2 separate regions of the Homo sapiens genome follow, and region 1 is linked to region 2. Evidence: fine-mapped expression QTL. Tissue or cell type: transverse colon. Region 2 holds a variant in brackets; the other region holds the start of a gene. All regions are shown on one strand. Distances are between the middles of the regions.

Evidence for each region. PIP is the estimated chance that this variant, and not a neighbour inherited with it, causes the effect.
Region 1: VN1R1 starts here. The variant in region 2 is fine-mapped to the expression of VN1R1 in transverse colon (GTEx, PIP above 0.99).

Annotation. Positions count from the first base shown.
Region 1 is chr19:57,453,262-57,461,367 of GRCh38, reverse strand. It overlaps VN1R1 (vomeronasal 1 receptor 1), which reads left to right and starts at 4,228. Exons shown (of 1, transcript NM_020633.4): 1 at 4,228-6,578. The coding sequence starts at 4,882. The coding sequence ends at 5,943. It also overlaps the pseudogene VN1R107P.
Region 2 is chr19:57,484,683-57,492,788 of GRCh38, reverse strand. It overlaps ZNF419 (zinc finger protein 419), which reads right to left and starts at 5,039. Exons shown (of 5, transcript NM_024691.4): 1 at 4,806-5,039; 2 at 2,604-2,642; 3 at 1,192-1,318; 4 at 578-676. The coding sequence starts at 4,838. RefSeq lists an enhancer at 4,751-5,251. The variant G/A (reference allele first, on the strand shown) is at 4,345.

The sequences.
Region 1 (8,106 bases), 31 kb after region 2:
TTCTGTTTTGGCTATTTCATTATTGGTGTACCGCAATGCTACTGATTTTTGTATATTGATTTTGTGTCTTACAACTATATTAAATTTGTTCCCCAGTTCTAAGAGTTTATAAGATCATATTACAACAAAGAAAAACAATTTTACTTTATATTTTCTCACCCGAATATCTTTTATTTAGTTAGCTAGGTATTTTTCTTGCCTGATTTCTCTGGCTAGGACCTCTAGTACTATACTGAATAGGAGTGGCAAAAATAGGTATCTTATACATGACATTCAGAAATGTGCACACATTATAGTGGTATGCTTCAATACATTTTTCTTGTAGGTCAACACATCTCTGAAGGCAGGACACATTCAAAGAAAGTCCAAAAAGACCAACACCACATGGTCATGGTCTCACTTGTATGCAGAATTTAGGCAAGTTGAGTTTATAAAAGTAGAGAGTAGAATGGTGGTTACCAGAGGCTAAAGAGATAGAGGGCAAACTGAAAAACGGGAGGTTTTTGTGAAAGCATACGAAGTTTCAGTTAGACACAAGGAATGTGTTCTAGTGATCTGTTGCACGGCGTGGTGACTATTGTTAATGTCTATTCCAAAATTGCCAAAAGAGTAGATTTTAAATGTTCTCATCAGAAAGAAATGATAAGTATGTGAGGAGATGTGTATTAAAACATAATGACGGACAAGGTTTTATAATGCCTTATTTTTGCCTTACATATTCCTGAGCATTTTTACTGACCATTTTATTAACAATAATTTTAATTTAATTTTAGACTCACAAGCAGTTTAAAAAATAACTCAGAGAGCCTCTACACATGGCCCAGTTTCCACCCATGGTTACATTTGGCAATTACAGTATAATATCACAATGATGATATTGATTTTGATATATTCACTATCATCTTTTTTTTTTTTTTTTGAGATGGAGTCTCACTCTGTCGCCCAGGCTGGAGTGCAGTGGCGCGATCTCGGCTCACTGCAAGCTCCACCTCCTGGGTTCATGCCATTCTCCTGCCTCAGCCTCCCGAGTAGCTGGGACTACAGGTGCCCGCCACAATGTCCGGCTAATTTTTTGTATTTTTAGTAGAGACGGGGTTTCACCGTGTTAGCCAGGATGGTCTCTATCTCCTGACCTCGTGATCCGCCTGCATCGGCCTCCCAAAGTGCTGAGATTACAGGCATGAGCCACCACACCCGGCCCTCACTATCATCTTAATATTTTCCTAATTTTACTTATACTGATTTGAGGAGAGTCTCTTGCTACAAATGTGTTGGACTTGCTGCTTGTGTCTGTATAGGACAAAGACTATGGAGCCACTGACCCACACCAAGAAGCCAAAACTCAAAAAGTCAGGAGAAAAGTATATAATTGTATATAAGGTGCCAAATATTTCTTGCATTGCCCAGGAGCAGACTCCATAATTGTTTTTCACACTAAGGTTTTTGCTGTTCAGTGGGCTGTTATTAAAACGTCAAGAAACAACAGATGCTGGCAAGGTGGTGGAGAAATAGGAATGCTTTTCCACTGTTGGTGGGAAGGTAAATTAGTTCAACCATTGTGGAAGACAGTGTAGCAATTCCTCAAAGACCTAAAACCAGAAATACCATTTGACCCAGCAATCCCATTACTGTGTATATATCCAAAGGAATATAAATCATTCTATTATTATCATTCTGTTATAAGGATACATGCATGTATATGTTCATTGCAGCACTATTCACAATAGCAAAGAAATGGAATCAACCCAAATGCCCATCAGTGATAAAGAAAATGTGGTACATATACACCATGGAATACTATGCAGCCATAAAAAGAATGAGATCACGTCCTTTGCAGGGATATGGATGGAGCTGGAAGCCATTATCCTCAGAAAACTAACACAGAAACAGAAAACCAAACACCAAATGTTCTCACTTATAAGTGAGAGTTGAGCGATGAGAACACATGGAGACAGGGAGGGGAACAACACACACTGGAATATGTCAAAGGGGTCGGGGGATGGAGCACATCAGGATAAATAGCTAACGCATGCTGAGCTTAATACCTAGGTGACGGGTTGATAGGTGCAGCAAACCACCATGGCACACGTTTACCTATGTAACAAACCTACACATCCGGCACCTGTATCCTGGAACTTTAAAAAATTAAATTAAATTGGCGCGGTGGCTCACGCCTGTAATCCCAGCACTTTGGGAGGCCAAGGTGGGTGGATCACGAGGTCAGGAATTCGAGACCAGCCGGGCCAACATGGTGAAACCCCATCTCTACTAAAAATACAAAAAAAATTTAGCCAGGCGCAGTGGCAGGCGCCTGTAATCCCAGATACTCAGGAGGCTGAGGCAGGTGAATCGCTTGAACGTGGGAGGTGGAGTTTGCAGTGAGCCGAGATAGCGCCACTGCACTCTAGCCTGGGCAACAGAGTGAGACTCTGTCTCAAAAAAAAAAAAAAAAGAAAGCAAAGAAAGAAAAAAAAATTAAATTAAATTAAAAAAAAAAAGGAAAATCTGTCTGAAAATTCTCACCAGTTACCAACACTTCTTTCTGAGGCTAGGAGGAGAAGGAGGTGGTATGTTAAAGTCAATAATCACACTAACTTTATACATACAAGAAGCTTTCAAAATAGTCATAGTAAAAATGGTACTTTATAAGGAGAAGCTGAAAAAATAGGAAACCAAATGCATATTGGAAATAAATTATACAACTAGGACAATGGAGCAAAATAAGAGATTAAAGCAAAGAATCAGGAACTATCTTGAAAATAAATGATGAGTTCATATAAATAGGAAAAACATTTGTCAACAAGTGGTTTGTGGGAATCTAAAAGGTTTTCATACCTCAGAGCCTGAGTTTTTTTTTTTTTTTTTTGAGACCGAGTTTCACTCTTGTTGCTCAGGCTGGAGTGCAATGGCATGATCTCGGCTCACTGCAACCTCCGCCTCTGGGGTTCAAACGATTCTCCTGCCTCAGCCTCCCGAGTAGCTGGGATTACAGGCATGCGCCACCACCTCTGACTAATTTTTGTATTTTTAGTAGAGACGGGGTTTCTCCCTGTTGGTCAGGCTGGTCTCGAACTCCCGACCTCAGCTGATCCACCAGCCTCGGCCTCCCAAACTGCTGGGATTACAGGCGTGAGCCACCTCTCGCCTGAGAATCTTGATACTGCTGTGTTATTGATTGCTCCACCCCTAAAGAGATGTAGTTATTCATGGGAGAAAATACCTCATAATTTTCCCTGATGATAGCAATTCCATAGAGACACCAAAAGAATCTAAATTATGGCCGGGCGAGGTGGCTCATCCCTGTAATCCCAGCACTTTGGGAGGCCGAGGCGGGCGGATCACGAGGTCAGGAGATCGAGACCATCCTGGCTAACACGGTGCAACCCCGTCTCTACTAAACACACACACACACACACACACACACACACACACACTAGCCGGGCGTGGTGGTGGGCGCCTGTAGTCCCAGCTACTCAGGAGGCTGAGGCAGGAGAATGGCGTGAACCCAGGAGGCTTCAGCCTCCCGAGTAGCTGGGACTACAGGCACGCACCACAACACCCAGCTAATTTTTGTATTTTTAGTAGAGACGGGGTTTCACCATGTTGGCCAGGATGGTCTCCATCTCCTGACCTTGTAATCCACCCGCCTCAGCCTCCCAAAGTGCTGAGATTACAAGCGTGAGCCACCGTGCCTGGCCGCAGTTACTATTTCTTTTGTGATTGATATATATGAATATTGTGCAATGAAATTCCCTCCCAATTGAATTATCTTTCCCTAAAAATAAACCCAAGCTTTCTGGAACATATTGAATTTCCTATTTAACAAGTTTTAAGGATATCTTAGGTGTTTCTGGGATTAGTATTTATTTTCAGGATCTTTTGCATTTACTTGTGAGAAATGGCATTGAGATAAAAATGTGTGGGCTCAAGGTGGTCATGGTTATTTCTACGGAGTCAATTCACAATCTCTAGACCTGTCCGGTGGAAAATAACAGAAATATATGTGCTTAAAATAAAATATACCATGATGCAATGTTGATTGTTCCAAAAATTATAGTTTTTAAAAATTCTTCAAGTTAGCATTTGTACTGTGCTGAAGGCCTTGTTACCAATTGTATTGTAGCGTTTTTTTAATTTCTTTTTTTTTTTTTTTTGAGACAGAGTCTCGCTCTGTCGCCCAGGCTGGAGGGCAATGGTTTGATTTCAGCTCACTGCAACCTCTGCCTCCCAGGTTCAAGCGATTCTCCTGCCTCAGCCTCCCGAGTAGCTGGGACTAGCACGCGCCGCCATGCCCGGCTAATTTTTGTATTATTAGTATTTTGTATTATTAGTAGAGACAGGGTTTCACCATGTTGGCCAGGATGGTCTCCATCTTGGCCTCCCGAAGTGCTGGAATTACAGGTGTGAGCCACTGCACCCGGCCTAAAATTTGTTTCAATGCATCAATAACAATGGTGTTTACTAAAATATTAGTGTGGAAAAGGTTTTATGGTGTATTATTTTTGCTTTTCATATCTCCAGGCTACTTAATTGAAGGTTTTATTGAAATAAGTGTAGACTCACAAGCAGTCATAAGAAATAATACAGAAAAAGCCCTGTCCATATTACCCAGGGTTCCGTCATGATTACATTTTGCAAACTATAGTATAATATCACTCTAATGATATTGACTCTTCTGTGTTCTGTTTTTATATATTTCCCTAGTTTTGCTTGTATTTACTTGTTGCATGTGTGTAAGCCCTGAGTTTTATAGGTTTGATTTGTGGATCTGTTGTGCGGTTGAGCCCTCATTCATTCACCTGCTTCTCTGCAGTTGGACACACAAGCAATTGCCTTTGCACGAACAGGGACAATCTTAATTTCTGTTTAAGATGAGAAAATATGGTTGGAGACACATTAAAACTTCTGTCTCCACTGATGACAAGATACTTCTTTCTGCTTTTTTATTCTACTGATTCTTCAGACCTCAATGAAAATCAACATCCCCTAGATTTTGATGAAATGGCTTTTGGAAAAGTAAAATCAGGGATTAGCTTCCTCATTCAGACTGGAGTTGGGATCCTGGGAAATTCCTTTCTCCTTTGTTTTTATAACTTAATTTTGTTCACTGGACACAAGCTGAGACCCACGGACTTGATTCTCAGCCAACTGGCCTTGGCTAACTCCATGGTCCTTTTCTTTAAAGGGATACCTCAGACAATGGCAGCTTTTGGATTGAAATATTTGCTGAATGACACTGGATGTAAGTTTGTCTTTTATTATCACAGGGTGGGCACAAGAGTTTCCCTCAGCACCATCTGCCTTCTCAATGGATTCCAAGCCATTAAGCTCAACCCCAGTATATGCAGGTGGATGGAGATCAAGATTAGATCCCCAAGGTTTATTGACTTCTGTTGTCTCCTCTGCTGGGCCCCCCATGTCTTGATGAATGCATCTGTTCTTCTATTAGTGAATGGCCCACTGAATAGCAAAAACAGTAGTGCAAAAAACAATTATGGATACTGTTCTTACAAAGCATCAAAGAGATTTAGCTCATTACATGCAGTCTTATATTTTTCCCCTGATTTTATGAGTTTGGGCTTCATGGTCTGGGCCAGTGGCTCCATGGTCTTCTTCCTCTACAGACACAAGCAGCAAGTCCAACACAATCACAGCAACAGACTCTCCTGCAGACCTTCCCAGGAAGCCAGAGCCACACACACCATCATGGTCCTGGTGAGCTCCTTTTTTGTTTTCTATTCAGTCCATAGTTTTCTGACAATTTGGACAACTGTAGTTGCAAACCCAGGCCAGTGGATAGTGACCAACTCTGTGTTGGTCGCCTCATGTTTCCCAGCACGCAGCCCTTTTGTCCTCATCATGAGTGATACTCATATCTCTCAGTTCTGTTTTGCCTGCAGGACAAGGAAAACACTCTTTCCTAATCTGGTTGTCATGCCATGAGTCTTTTCTCTTCATGGAATTCAGCTATTTATCATAACTCTTGCTAAGATTTAGGAAATATTAACTACTAGTTATTTGTGATAGCAACATACACATGGCCAGTAATGCTCTTGTCCAGGAAGATCTAATACCAGAGCTAAAAATGAAAGTCATGGATACTGTTACACAAAGAACACTCTATATAACTGTGTTAAGTCCTTCAGACAAGTTCAGGAAATCAAAAAGTTTAAAAAGGGAATTCTTTAGAGATTTAGGGGAGATTTCTCATTTTTGTACTATGAAGAATCATGGAATGTTTTAAAAATATTTTTAAAGCACAGTTTGATTCAGGTGCTTCTTGAACAGCATAAATCCCCTGGAGAGTCCACATGTAAGAAAGACATGTGCAGGCCGGGCACAGTGGCTCACGCCTGTAATCCCACCGTTTTGGGAGGCTGAGGCACTCCCAAATGCCTCAAGTGATCCACTCAAGATGACTTGAGGCCAGGAGTTCGAGACCAGCCTGGCCAACATGGCAAAAACCCTGTCTCAAATACAAAAATTAGCCAACCATGTGGCACACACCTGTAGTCCCAGCTACTCCAGAGGGTGAAGCACGAGAATTACTTACCAGCTTGGGTGACGGAGGGAGACTCAAAATAAAAATAAAAATAACTAAAAGTGGCTGGGCACCGTGGGTCACGCCGGTAACCCCAGCACTTTGAGAGGCTGAGGTGGGCAGATCACTTGAAGTCAGGAGTTCAAGACCAGCCTGGCCAACATGGTGAAACCCCATCTCTATTAAAAATACAAAAATTAGCCAGACATGGTGGCAGGTGCCTGTAATCCCAGCTACTCAGGAGACTGAGGCAGGAGAATCCTTGAACCCAGTAGGCAGAGGTTGCAGTGAGTCGAGATCCCACCACTGCACTCCAGCCTGGGAGACAGGGCAAGACGCCGTCTCAAAAAAAAAAAAAAAAAAGAAAGAAAGAAAGTGCTTCTGCACTCCAGCCTGGACAATAGAGCAAGACTATCTAAAAAAAAAAAAATTAAAAATCAATATCAAAATAAATGAGTATTCTCATAAGCAAGACAAGCCTAAAGAAATGTGAGTACTAACTGTAATGTGGTTACATTTAGAGACACATGAAAAAAAATAAATAAAAGAATAAAAAATAATAAAATAAATGCAATGTGGTATCCTAGGTGGAATTCTGGAACAGAACATGTATTTTGGTAAAAACTGAGGAAATCTCAATCAAAGATGTACTTTAGTTTAATAATGTATCAAAACTGTTTCACTAATTGTAAATAATGCTGTATACTAATATATGACTATATATTAGTAACAACTAGGTGTGCTTGTAAATGAGATATCTCTGTACTATATTTGCAATTTCTCTGTACATCTTAAAATGTTCTAAAATTAAAACTCTATTAAAATAGAAAAATAAGATTTTTTTTTAAAAAAAGGGAAAAGATTTAGAAATTTGGCCAAATATACAGATAACAAATAAGCATATAAAAACTTATTCAGCATCATTAATTATTAGAGAAATGCAAATTTAAAAACCACACTGACCACAACACATCTATGAAAATGGTTAATCTTTAAAATACACCATAACCATCATGGACAAGGAGGTATAACAAATGCAATTCTGCTAAATATATTCATATAAACACTTGTATATGAATGTTCATGGGTCTTTGTTAGTTTTTTAGTCCAACACTAGAAACAATCAAAATATTTATTAATAGATTAATAAATTGTGGTATATTCAATGCAATACTCTTCATCAACAAAAAATGAATACGCTTAACATGTATAAATATCAAAAAATGCTCCATATGAATGTAATGTAGGATTTCATTTGTATAAGATACTAGAAAATTTATAGGCCGGGCATGGTGGCTCACGCCTGTAATCCCAACACTTTGGGAGGCCAAGGCAGGTGGATCACTTGAGGTCAGGCGTTCGAGACCAGCCTGGCCAACATGGAGAAACCCCCGTCTCTACTAAAAATACAAAATTAGCCAGGCGTGGTGGCGCATGCCTGTAATCCTAGCTACTCAGGAGGCTGAGGCAGGAGAATCGCTTGAACCCAGAAGGTGGAGGTTGCGGTGAGCTGAGATCGTGCCATTGCACTCCAGCCTGGGCAACAAGAGTGAAATTCTGAGAAA
Region 2 (8,106 bases):
TGTGTCTAACACACCCAGTAATTAGTGCCTGGGGCTGCTAGCAGAAATAAAGAGGGCTAGCTCTCAGCAGGGAAGGGCCTGCTGTGCAGTGCTGAATCTGGCCAGCTCAAGGATTTGGGGAGGCCTCATGAGCACCAAGGATGCAAGGATGGGGTATAGCACAGGGAGGAGAGGCAGTGTCCCCAACACAATCCTCTGCAAATGGCTTTCCACAGGACTTTGGCTGCTGGAGACACAGGAACACGGCACAGAAGGTTATGTCCAGGTCCAGAAAAAACCAACTGCAACCAAATAGCTGATGCTCAAGGACTATGCAAGGATAAGCATCCACCTCACCACACATTCAGTGAAAGCCACTGCTGAAGGGTTCTGCTGATGACTGGGTGAAACATGGAGGACAGAGAGGTGGGGAATGGCCCTAGGTCAAACATCAGAATAGATATAAATGGGTGACTAAGGAAGAAAAGATAGAAATCAGCGACAACCCCTTGCCTTGGTATCAAAATATCTGGGCCTACTGGTATGATATGAATCCATCCCTGAGTTCACACCTCCCTGAGCTCCACCCACCAACTACCTCTCGGTATGGCTGAAGTCACAACTTCCCAAGCAGGCATGAAGGGCTCCTCCCATGACTCCAGCTGGGTTATTTCATGGGTCTTGGAAGATGCAAGTCCTAAGGAAAACGACAGGTGAGTGGCAGCACTGAGCCAGAATGACTTATCTCATCATGGACCACAGGAAAGAAAACAAAATAGTACAGAAAGAACCTTGGAGGAGGGTCTTGCAGGAACAACACAGTCAAACAGCAATCACATTGGTGACTCAATTGCTGGCACAGACCGACACCCAGGTATGTTGGCTAGAGGAGACAGGCAGAATGTAGGGGAATAGAACTACCACAGATCTGCACAGTGTCACCAGGCCACAGAGAGGCCACCAGGGATAAGATCCATCAAGCTGACTGCAAGACTCCTGACCCCCAAACCCTTTCCTGCACAGCTGTGGGGCAGCTTGGGGAGAGAAGGTGGTAGTATACACAGCCCAGGCCTATTACAATAGCTACTTCAGGATACTGGAGAAGGAATGAGTGCCCACAGTTCAGCTTTGGGAAGAACAGACCTCTCCCTAGGAAAAGGAGGAAAAGCCGAGCCCAGCTCAGGATGCTGGGGTGGGGTGTGAGAACCTTACCCAGAGAGGCCAGAAGTGTAAAGTTCTCCAGCATCACATTGCGGTAGAGGAGCCTCTGAGCGTCATCAAGCAATCTCCATTCCTCCTGGGAGAAGTAGACAGCCACATCCTCAAAGGTCACATAGCCCTGCTAAGATGGACAGAGTAGAGTTTATCTGCAGCCTCCTTACTGGGAAATTTAGGCATCTGCCTAAACATCCACCCCTGCTCACCCTCTTCCTTAATCCCCATCTCAGAGGAGAGACCCTGCCCCAGAGCCACTGATGCCCACTCTCTCCTCATGCTCCCACTGAGCAACAATAGGCAGGTAGGCAGATAAAGTCCATCTCAGCTCTGGGCATGGTATGCAGAGTCCTACTCTTCTCTTGCCAGACAATTTACCTTGGATCCCCTAGACTGTGTTTCTCAAATACAATCAAATTTGTGTCAGTGTTCTCCCTGAAGCCCCCAGTACAAGGTCCTGGGGACATCTGTTTACACTTATTAGAATGTGCACATACTTTGTACCACAACCACTACCCTCTACATCACCTCATGTGCTTCCCCTAGTGTCACCACATGCCAGTCTACACATGGCATCCAGAGGGCACTTACCAAATGCAATCAGAACTCCGTGCCATCCCAGACCCCCAATGGCACTGACTGCCAGGGCCAATCCTCAGCCCCACTTTGAAGGCCTCCCTCCTTGGCTCTTTTTCTTGCTTCATCTTTAGCTACTTGGAATTGCACACATATCAGGACACCTCAGCTCAGCTCCTCAGCCAATCACTTCATGTTGGCCTTATACCCGCTGATGCTTCCCCCAGACATAATGGAGATCTGAGGTTGTCTAAGCATTCCCAGCTCAACCTTACCTCCATGTATTTTCTAATGTTGATCACTATGCCTTCTAAACCTCCTGTCATTGGTTGCCAGAAATGAGAACCTCTCCATAGAATACATAGTCTGGGTTGGGCACGGTGGCTCACGCCTGTAATCCCAGCACTTTAGGAGGCCAAGGCGGGCGGATCATCTGAGGTCAGGAGTTTGAGACCAACCTAACCAACGTGGAGAAACCTCTCTACCAAAAATCCAAAATTAGCTGGTGTGGTGGCGCATGCCTGTAATCCCAGCTACTCGGGAGGCTCAGACAGGAGAATTGCTTGAACCCAGGAGCCAGAAGTTGCAGTGAGCCGAGATCGCGCCTTTGCACTCCAGCCTGGGCAACAAGAGCAAAACTCTGTCTTAAAAGAAAATAATAAAAATAATATATAGTCTGGACTCAGGGCCCTGACTGTGTGTGACCATCTTCCAGGGAACTCAAATGGAAGGGTAGGGAGAATAGCCAGCAAGGAGCCTCAAGACACCATAATTCTGAAGACCATGTAGGTAGGAGTGCAGGAGTGTGAGGACCTGAGACATCCTCCACTTACCTCCTCATGGTCTGTAAGCAAGTCTGCAGCCACAGGAACCTATGGAAAATCAAGACTATGAGAACCAGACAGTGATGTTGCCAAAGGATCATCCAAGCCCACTCGTCTAGCCTGGAGTCAGGTGTGCCTGACTATCTACAATCTGGGCTTTGGTTCTTAGTGATGCCTCTTACCTGTTGTGTGCCCTTGGAAAAGTGCTCAACTTCCCTGTGCCTTGGTGTTGCCATCTGCAACATGGCAATAATAATGGTATTTACTCAATAGGACGATTGTTTGTATCAAACTCATTCTTATGTGTCTAGGACTAAGTATCAACTCTTACTGTACACATAATTAATGCTTCTGTCAACATTTTCAGCGCAAATAAACTGGTAGGTTTTCAAAATGTGGGTTTCTGGCTAGGCGCAGTGGCTCACACCTGTAATCCCAATGCTTTGGGAGGCCGAGGTGGGCAGATCGTCTAAGGTCAGGAGTTTGAGACCAGCCTGGCTAACATGGTGAAACCTCGTCTCTACTAAAAATATAAAAATTAGCTGAGCGTGGTGGTGCATGCCTGTAATCCCAGCTACTCAGGAGGCTGAGGCAGGGGAATCGCTTGAACCAGGGAGGCAGAGGTTGCAGTGAGCAGAGATTGCACCATTGCAGTTTAGCCTGGGCAACAAAAGCGAAACTCTGTCTCAAAAAAAAAAAAAAAAAAAAAAGAAAGAAAGAAAGAAAAAGAAAATATGGGTTTCTTAAACTTACTTTTAAATTAAGAATGTGATACTTAAGGTGCTTTATTTTAATCAAATACTTTCCAGTATACTAACTTTACAACCAATTATGAAGTGCTTACATCAGTTTAACTTAATAAATCCGTGTTGTTTTATTTGCCCCTGTGTGTATATGAACTATGATCAATTAGTGCTTAAATACTTACCTCATAAATTCACAAGTTAATAAACTGGGACCTGGGTCTGAGAAACCTGAGCACATACCATTCCTTTTGGCAACCTGGCTGCCTGCTATATACTCCCCTGAAGACCATCCTGCTGAGAGCCCTTCTACTGGAGCAGTTGATCATCCCTCCTGTGCTGACGGCTAGGGAAACTTAGGCACCAAAGGGGCTGCTCCAGCAGCCTGGCTGACGTTTCCTTTTGTCCATACGGACTGTACATGAGGAACTGCTGAGCCTGGAGTGGCAAACCTATATACTACTCAACACTGCAGTCTCCATGCAGTCCTGGGTCTTCATACTCTATAACCCTCCATTCCGGCAGACACCAGACAGAACCACTTCTGACCACAAAACTCCATGCTATAGAGGCAGCCCCGTCCTACAGGGCCATCTCTCCCTTCTCTCACCTTAGGGCCCATCTGAAAGGGAACCTTAAGATTCTCCCTCCTAAATAGGAGCCCCAGGACTTACCCTAGTCCAGGCCTCTACCCAACCAGCCCATATCTACCATATCTCCAGCCCAGATCCCTCCCCAAACTTCCAGATGTGAGTGGGCAAGCTGCCCATGTGGACACGACACCTCCACTCTGGGTCATCTCAGGATTACCATGTCCAAAACCTACTCCCTGCACAGCCTTACCCATCTCCATCCTTCCTGATATTCAGGAACAAACAAACAAAAATACAAATAAAAATCCAGAATGGCTCTTCATTCCCTTTCTTTCAGTCACATCTGATGCAACAGGAATTCCTGTCTGTTCAGTTTTTGATATCCATCCAAGATCTGATCACTTCCCCTCCTCT[G/A]TGGCCCAGTCCCAGTAGACTCTCCACTAGTCTACTGAATTTACCTACTCACAGGTCTGTCTTCACCCGCCTCACCCCCACCCCAGTCTGTTTTGACTTGAAGGGCCTTTGGCAAACTTTGAGAAACAGATCTTGTCACTCTTCTGTCTCCAGCCCTCCGCGGCCACTGTGGCCCCCTCAGGATGAAAGCGCAGCTGCTCGGGCTGTCGCTCGACACGCGCCTCGTCCCTTCCCAAGCTGCCCACTACAGACACCAGGAGGCCTCAGGTTCGGGACTCGCTGAATGCGCCTCACATCTTTGCGAGCCGGGCCCCTTGCCCTCCATTGCCACCCCATCACACTGCGTGTCAGAAACGGGACGCCGCGCACGAACGCCCCACAGTTCTGCACCCGGGGACCTGAGCAGGCGGCCCTCACAGGGCTTTAGGATTCGGGGGAGGCCAGGAGGACGCGGCGCTCACCTGAGCGGGGTCCCTCAGGGCGGCCGCCGCCATCGGAGCCTGTGAGTAGAGCTGGAGGGGAGACAATGACCGAGGAAAGGGCCCGGGCCACCCTGGGCGCCGCCACCGAGCCTCAGACCCGCCTCTGAGCGGCGAGAACAGCGTGAGTCGCCACCGTGCCTTCCGGCGCTGGTCGCCTCAGCGCACAACCAGCTTCTCGCAGGTTAGTTCACCTGAGTCGCGAAAGTGAATACCAAACGAGACGCCGGAAGTCCCGCCCATTGCGTGTCGCACGCTCGGGCAGACCTCTTTTCATTGGTCAGGGATCGCCGCCTCGCGGCGCTGCGCCTTTTGGGCAATGTAGTTCCCGTGCCTCCAAACTTCCAGGAAGTGGGCATAACTTCGGAGATGGAGATTGGAGATGATAGATGATGATGGAGATGGAGACGGAGATGGAGATGATGATGGAGATGGAGATAACGGAATAGGAGATGGAGGAGAAATTAGGGTTGAGAACTTCTCTCGGACTCATCCAGAAACTGCTGTTTTTGGAGATGGGCCTGGATTTCAGTTTCCTGCAGCTGATACCCCAATCTTTCCTTCTTTTGAAGGAATTGAAGAGGATCTTCAGGGCCACAGTAAAGAGGTTTCTCTGGGAAGAGCCACGTATAGATCCCCAAATTTCCTTTGACAAAAGGACACCCAATATTAAAATTAACGGTGGCCAAGCAATGCCTGATGTATGACAATAAGAAAAGGCTCTGAATTCTGGATGTAGGTGATGAGAGAGTATGGGAGCCCAAGGATTTACTTTCCTCCTTTATCCCATGCTCATTTGTGCTCCTTCCTTCCTCAAAGACCCAACATTGGTGTACAGGCACAACAATAGGCGGCAAACCCATGAGGCAACTCCCCCTCCATTTCTCTCCTTCATCCCTTTATGCTCCATGTTCCCACTGCTCTTCCATTTCCAAATATAAAGCCAGTTCCTCACAGGTGGGTAGAATGCTAGACTGTTGTTTACAACACACAACTATTGATAAAAAAAAGATGTCAACCCTTTATTATGTGTAGTCCCACTACATCCATTCCCATTGAATCTAGTCCCCTCGTGTCAATCTAATTTCCCTACTTCTTTTCCTGCCCCTTCCATCTGTTGGCTGAATAATGATCAATTTCAACACAGCATTGGAGTGACTTATGAGGACAAGAGAAAATGAAGCCCTCCCTCCTTCTTGGAGCTTTCTGGAACTGGGTGTTCAGTACTACTTGACTCTGAAAAGGAGGAGGGGAGTCAATATTGGGATTGAGAACATGGTAGAATAGAGAGAGACACAAGCTCTTTACCCCTTCCATGGCAGCTATGGCATTAGTTATTTCAGTTAGACCATTATGTGGCATATGGAAGGGAGGGGAGGAGGAGAGTGAGGAGAGATGAGTCCATGACAGGAGTGGGACAATATGTAAATAATATCCTCCTTCTGAAACCAAGCACAGGAATAAATGTTTCACTTCCTTGAGAACATCTATTAGAAGAGCAGATTCTGGATTAATCATCTAATAGATTATGGAAATTAGCTTACCATCATGACAGGAACCTTTGTGGACAAACCTAAAAAACATATTATAGAATCTAGTCACCCATACAGTGTAAAATGTATAGAAAATTCAGAATCTGGAAATAAGAAACAGTATATCATTTAGGAAAATATATGTATGTAGTAAAACTATAAAGACATTTATAGAATGATTATCAAAATGATTAACAAAAATGTCATGCAAATGTTAGCTTAATGGGGTGTATCAGGCATGTGAGGTGATGTGAAAAGAAAGGATGCCTAGGAACTATATTTTTTAGCCAGGCGTGGGGGCAGGTGACTGTGATCCCAGCTACTCAGGAGGCTGAGGCAGAAGATCACTTGAACCTAGGAGGGAGAGGTTGCAGTGAGCTGAGACTGTGCCACTGCACTCCGGCCTGGGTGACAGAGCAAGACTCTGTCTCAAAAAAATAAATTAAAAAAAAAAAGAAAGAAACTATGTTTTATCACTACTGGTTGTTTCACAGATGTGGTTTTAATTAAAAAACAAACTATACCTCTTTTGAAAGTTGTAGTGAATTGTGTGATAGTTTTGAAATAAAGAGTATATGTAGACATTTTAATTTTATCACAGGAAGAGACAACCCACTAAAGCAGGCTCATATGTAGAATTGCAAATAACATGACTGGTGAGGACCAAGTAGACTATCTAATTATTTGGTTTAGGTAAAATCATTATCTACATAAGAAATTCACTTATATCTCATTGAATTCACAAAAAAATCCCATGAAGCTATTTTATTTTTTAAAAGCAACATATGCCGGGTCTATATGTTTTCTCTCTAACTTCTGGAATCTATTTTTATTTCCAACCTTTAGGAATATTTACATGTCTATAAGGAGTGTGAACATCAAAGTTTGAGTCCAAGACTCTACCTTTGGCCATATCTCCTTCAGGGCTAGCAAGCACATTCCTCTGTGTTTGGGAAGTCTAACCCATCCAAGATGGCATGAAAAGCAGATGCACCTCAGGGTCTAATCACAAGTCAACCCTCAACACATGAGCAGCTGCAGGGAATGAGGGAAGGCTGAGGGCTGTAACCAACTAAACAAATTTTGATGACATCTCCTGCCCTCCCCAAGGTTAGAGCTTAACGGAAGAAGTCACCACCCAGCAGCTCTGGAAACTCTGGACTTCCATGGAGATGGCTACCTGGTCCTCAGACACTTGAAGTCTGGTCGCCTCAGCTAGAGAGCCAAGACTAACCCATCTGAACTATCCTTATAAGGAAAAGTAGGCAGGGAGATGAGGCCACAGGATGGGAAAATATAACCATTTCCTCAACGAGGAAGGAGACTAATATTTCAGAAGAGCAGTTCTGCTCTACAACAGGTAAGCAGCCCTATGTCCTGTTATTGCCCAAACATAGTCTTATGCTCAAAGACACCATCCCAGCAGATGTTGGCTTGGTGATTATAAACTCTTCGGAAGCTCCAGTGGAACTGAGGAACCACGATCACCAACTACTCAAGAGTACAGCTATTCCTAACCACTACAATCATCTACTCTTCCATAGATACCACATCTTTGAGACTTACCTGGATGTCCTTGCTCTGCTGAACACTGACTCACCAGAAAATGACTGAAAATACTGAGAAAAAGTTTTTTCCTCTGCTCATACCACCCAAATACACCATTCTCTCCTCCCAGGTCAAGCCTTGAAAATATTGGTCTGGTTTTGTAGAATTTGCCAAGTCCACATTCTACCTGGAAACTGAACCTA